Regions from separate parts of the Homo sapiens genome. Here region 1 is linked to region 2. Evidence: fine-mapped expression QTL. A gene starts in region 2. The other region holds a variant in brackets. All regions are shown on one strand. Distances are between the middles of the regions. Region 1 overlaps MEI1 (meiotic double-stranded break formation protein 1). Region 2 holds the start of DESI1 (desumoylating isopeptidase 1).

Evidence for each region. PIP is the estimated chance that this variant, and not a neighbour inherited with it, causes the effect.
Region 1: its variant is fine-mapped to the expression of DESI1 in whole blood (INTERVAL, PIP above 0.99). The same link has a PIP of 0.9 or more in CD4 T cells and CD8 T cells.

What each region holds. Positions count from the first base shown.
Region 1 is chr22:41,721,673-41,724,580 of GRCh38, forward strand. MEI1 (meiotic double-stranded break formation protein 1) reads left to right here. Exons shown (of 31, transcript NM_152513.4): 7 at 2,271-2,401. It also overlaps the pseudogene RNU6ATAC22P. Among named protein-coding and RNA genes, the nearest start is that of MEI1, 24 kb to the left of the region's middle. The variant C/T (reference allele first, on the strand shown) is at 1,389.
Region 2 is chr22:41,619,509-41,622,347 of GRCh38, forward strand. It overlaps DESI1 (desumoylating isopeptidase 1), which reads right to left and starts at 1,535. Exons shown (of 6, transcript NM_015704.3): 1 at 1,244-1,535. The coding sequence starts at 1,331. XRCC6 (X-ray repair cross complementing 6) reads left to right here and starts at 1,787. Exons shown (of 13, transcript NM_001469.5): 1 at 1,787-1,837; 2 at 2,482-2,578. The coding sequence starts at 2,497. RefSeq lists an enhancer at 953-1,554 and a silencer at 1,286-1,555.

The DNA of each region.
Region 1 (2,908 bases), 100 kb after region 2:
ATGAACCACCACACCCAGCCAGAATTCCCGTTTTTAAATGCTACCCCTTTTTTTTTTTTTTTTTTTTGAGATGGAGTCTCGCTCTTTCACCATGCTGGAGTGCAGTCGCACGATCTCAGCTCACTGCAACCTCTGCCTCCCGGGTTCAAGTGATTCTCCTGCCACAGCCTCCCGAGTAGCTGGGACTACAGGCGCGTGCTACCATGCCCGACTAATTTTTGTATTTTTAGTAGAGACGGGGTTTCACCGTGTTGGCCAGGATGGTGTCAATCTCTTGACCTCGTGATCTGCCTGCCTCGGCCTCCCAAAGTGTTGGGATTACAGGCGTGAGCCACCGCGGCCAGCCTCTTTTTTTTTTTTTTTAAATAATAAAAAAAATTAACCCTATGCATGTTTGTCAGACCCGAGGGCCTCTTTTATCCTGGTCAACGGGAGTGCTAACCTTCTTTCAGACAACACTTAAAGGTCACCTCTTCTCTGGAGCCTTTCCTTCCCACCCTCTCCCCTCAGCCAGGGATGTAGTCACATCCTTTGGACCCTTGAAGCACCAAGGGTCTTATATTCTGTCTTATGTCATCTTATTCACTTACTTTACAACCCAAGATCCTCATAAGTTCTTATTTTATTTAATTTACTTATTTTTAAAGATGGGACCTGTTCTATTGCCCAGGCTGAAGTACAGTAGCATGTTCATAGCTCACTGCAGCCTCGAACTCCTGGCCTCAAGTGATCCTCTCACCTTGATCTCCCAAGTAGCTGGTATTACAGGTGCACGCCACCTTGCCAGCATTTTAATTTTTTTTTTTTTTTTTTTTTGTAGAGATGGGGTCCCACTATGCTCATAAGCTGTTTATGGTCTAATCCTTATTAACCTCTCAAGCCTCATCTCTCACTTCTCTATCTGTCCCCACCCTAACTCAGCCTTACTGAACCAAATCCATCTCCAGGAACACACCATACTCTCCTGCCTTTATATATTCCTCTGCCCAGAAGTTGGCTCACATCCAACTTCTCATCCTTCAAGATTTGGTTCAAATATCTTCTTATAGAAGCCTTCCCTGGGCCCCCAGGCTAGATTAGATGATTCATTTGATTTCCTGCGGTCCTCTGGGCTTTTTTCCACATTATTTAATTTTAATATTTAATATTCTGACATGCATTTCTTTACTTGTTTGTTAAAGTATGTATTATTTGGAACACTTTGGTGACTTACCATGAATCCCAGCATAAGTACCAGAATCCTTAACATAGCTTATGTGGTCTTTTGTGACTACTTCTCAAATGTAATTTCTGGACTTTTTTTTCCCCCAGCCATTCTGGCTTTCTTTCACTTTCTAGAATGTTGTTCTCTGTATCTGGAATACTTCTCCCCACTTCACCTACTTTTA[C/T]GTACTTATTTTTCAGATTCAGCTTAAATGGTACTTGCTGATGGAAGGCTTTACTGATCCCCCACACTGGGTTAAATCCTCATATACATTTTCATGTATTTGGGTATTTCTCATTTACATCATTTATCACAATTATAAGGGTCATTTGTCTGACTTGGTTTTTTTTTTTTGAGATGGAGTTTCACTCTGTCACCCAGGGTGGAGTACAGTGACGCCATCTCAGTTCACTGCAACCTGTGTCTGCTGGGTTCAAGCGATTCTCCTGCCTCAACCTCCTGAGTAGTTGGGACTACAGGCACATGCCTCCATGCCAGGCTACTTTTTGTATTTTTTTACTAGAGAGGGGGTTTCACCATGTTGGCCAGGCTGGTCTTGAACTCCTGACCTCAAGTGATACACCCACCTTGGCCTCCCAAAGTGCTGGGATTACAGGTGTGAGCCACCACGCCTGGTCTTGTCTTACTTGTTTTTGTGTTTGTTTCTCCTACAGGAGTGTATGCTCCCTTTGTTAGTCAAAAAATATTTTTTGAGTTCCTGCTATGTGTCAGGAACTGTGCCAGGTGATGGATGATGTTATGTTGAAAAAACTCACATTATTCCTGCCCTCATGAAACTTATAGTTGAGTGAGGCAGTCGGGCTATGTTTATCTTGCTTACTCTTGAATCCCTAGACCCTTAGGCCTAGCACTTAGTGGGCTCTCACTAGATCTGTGTGGAAGAGAGTCGGGTGCAAAAAGCAAATTGGTGCTTAAGGATTCTAACCATTCTTCATATTTGTAGAGGGATGAAGAAGTTTCTCTGGGGATGTCTGAGGGGCTATCTTGGGAGTACTCTGGTGCCTGTGTTCCTCTTGCCTTACTTCCCAATCCCTTTGTTTCCTAGGTTTGCTGAGGCAGCTGTTGAAGTATGATCTCTTTGTGTCCATGATCATGAACCAGGATGGACTGGGAGAAAGTGCTAAGAATATCGAAGGGTCATCAGGAAATACCTCACTGCCTTTGGTGCTCAAAAAGGTAGTTGTCTTGTGATTCCTGGTCTCTAGGTTCAATAACAAGGGGACCCAAGTGCTTCTTGGGCCTTGTCTTCATCTACCACTCCTATCTCAGATTTCCAAGTGTTTTCTTACTGGGCAAAATAATATACTGGCTGGGGGCGGTGGCTCATGTCTGTAGTCCCAGCACTTTCGGAGGCCTAGGTTGGTGGATTGCTTGAGCCCAGGAGTGCAAGACCAGCTTGGGCAATATGGCAAAACCCTGTCTCTATAAAAAATACAAAAAAGTTGGGCGTGGTGGCTCACGCCTGTAATCCCAGCGTTTTGGGAGGCCAAGGCTGGCGGATCATGAGGTCAAGAGATTGAGACCATCCTGGCCAGCACAGTGAAACCCCATCTCTACTAAAAATACAAACATTAGCTGGGCGTGGTGGCACACACCTGTAGTCCCAGCTACTCGGGATGCTGAGGCAGGAGAATGCCTTGAATCTGGGAGGCGGAGGTTGCAGTGAGCCAAGACCGCGCCACT
Region 2 (2,839 bases):
CACATATATATCCTTTGATTTGCATATTTAAAGAGCTATTCTAACCTTGTTTTTTCTAATCTCATTTACAATATATGTTGGAAATGAGGGTATCTGCATTTTTAACAAGCACCCTAGATGATTTTGATGTGAAGCCAAATATAGAAACAACTCATGGACCCACGGTTGTGAGATTAAGTTCAATTCACTACGACATATTAGAAACTCAAGGACATTGAAGGATGCCCTCAAAAGTAGCCTCCCTTACTTGATCTCTGCCCCCTCGTCTCACAGAGATGAACTAAATCATTCGCCAGTGTCTCCACAGAAGCCAGGAAAAACTAGCCATTCAAATGGATGCTGTCAAAGCTTCAATTTTCAATAATTGGAATTCTTTCCTGCTCATTGTTACCCGAAATTACAAACCTGACAATTCCTGTGTTACACAAGACATTCCTGTATTTAAGTTGAAATAAGGTGTGATCGTCACTGAATGAGGGCTGGTTTTTCTCCTGCCAGTTAAGTAGTTTAATGGAGCACAACCGAAATACTTTCTTTACTAATCCTTATTCACACAGCCTCATCCAAACTTCCCCCAAAACTGCTTTCTTGCCATTTGAGCAAAAGCAATTAACTTAGAAACTGTGGGGAGAAGACTGCTTGGTGAATTCTGGAGTTCGGGGCTCCTCTTATCCTGACTTGACCTACCTGGGGGCGATGGCTGGGTCCCTAGGCAGCTCTATCTCCCCCATCCCACCTATCCCTGGGACTGCAAAGGGAGCTTCCTTTTGGCACTGAGACAAGGTTCTCCGAGAGCCACCCGACCTCCGCAGTGTCTCTGTCACCACGAGGGGCACCGCGCGGCAGGCATCCTCACCTTTCCTACACCGCGCCAAGGAGGCAGGAGTGCACTGGGCTACCCGAGCGAGGCAGAGAACCCGCCGGGATCCAGCGCTGGTTTACCCCACACCCTCGTCGAAGGGGCTCTCGAGGGCTCGGTTTCTGCCCAAGCCCCCTGCAAGGTGGAGGCATGACTCCTCCATCCCTTCCCCTTGAATTCAAACGTGAGGATGGTATCTGCGAGGCTAAAGCGGGGCTCAGATGGCCCAAACTTCAGACCACTCTCTTCTCCACTCGGCTTTTCTTCCATCCTCCTGGCCATGTGTCTCCCCGTGAGTCGTGGCCCAAGTCTCCCCACCTCGGCCAGCCGCCACCCTCTGGCCTGGCTCCCGCCCTCCTGCCCACCTGGCCCCTTCCCCCTCACCCAGCATGATGGGGCTGAGCCGCCGGGCCAGGCCTTTGGACAGGTCGTACACGTAGAGCTTCACCGGATAGAGATTCGGCGGCTCCATTGGGACCCGTGGCGACGGCGGCCACGACGGCCCTCGGGCACCCGGCAGCGGCTTGGACCTTCCCGTACCCGACGGGAGTGCGAAGCGGAGGGAGAGGGGGGGACCGAGCCCGGGCCCGGGCTGAGGGGTGGGGGAGAGGCCGCCCTGCGCTGCTCGCGCCCCCACACCCGCTACCGGCAACGACTACTGTGAGGTGACAGAGAGGGGACAGGGAGGGCCCACACGGAAGAGGGGGCGGGGGCAGGGATGCACTTTTGCGCATGTGCTTACAGTCCTGACGTAGGAAGGGGCGGGGCTTTGCCGAAGGGGGCGGGGCTCTCGCTGATGGGTTGGCTTTCGTCAGGGACATAGGTAGAAGCTGGTTGGGGAGTGTGCGTGCCAGCCTGACGCGATATAGTGCGCACATGCGTGATGACGTAGAGGGCGTTGATTGGGACCGAGTACAGGGCCCGCGCATGCGTGGATTGTCGTCTTCTGTCCAAGTTGGTCGCTTCCCTGCGCCAAAGGTAAGCGGGCCGTTATCCATTTGTGTTGTTCGCCAGCTAGGCCTGGCCTCGTCCCGCTTCGCTCGGTCGGTCTCGCGCGCCCCCATAGCCTTGCTAGAGGGTTAGCGTTAGCCTTAAGTGTGCGAATCCGAGGAGCAGCGACAGACTCGAGACCACGCTCCTTCCTCGGGAAGGAGGCGGCACCTCGCGTTTGAGGCCCGCCTGCGTTTGAGGCCCGCCTGCGCTTGCGGCCCGCCTGCGCTTGAGGCCTGTCTGCGTTTGAGATCTCATTGGGCGTGATTGAGGAATTTGGGGAGGTTTTTGGGCGGTATTGAGGACGAGGGGGTCCGTTAGTCAGCATAGAATCCTGGAGCGGGAATCCCTCACCGTCTAAATGGCGTCGGGGGCGGGACCTCCGGGATCTGGCTTCCGCGGGCCGCCGCCGGCCCTGAAACGTGAGGGATAGCTGAGATGAGGCAGCTACTGGGATGGCCCCCATGCGCATTTACATGCAGTCCGACTGCCGAGCTTTCGAGGCAGCAGGATTTACCGTCCACATTCCTCACTACTAACCAAGCTTTTAGAACAGATCTCACAAGAACCTAGAGGTCGGTATTTTTTCGATTTAAATTTGCCTGTTACTGACGTTAACGTCTTTCGCCTAGTGAGCAGTAGCCAACATGTCAGGGTGGGAGTCATATTACAAAACCGAGGGCGATGAAGAAGCAGAGGAAGAACAAGAAGAGAACCTTGAAGCAAGTGGTAAGTGACTTCAGCATGTAGTGCCATTCGGTGTGTGGAAGAAAGACCTTCCCTGCCTATCTCTGCTGGATGGACTTTGCTGTTTGATGGCCTGCCCTTCTCCTCCCAGATAATTCTGAAATTCTTTTCTTCCTTTGAACTTCGCAGAGCTACCCTAGGCTCTTATATGCAGATCTTACTCTAGTGTGCCCTAAGTTTTTTTTGGACACTGGTAGTTTGACATCTTTTGGTCCCTGATAAATGGCCATGACCATAGGTATT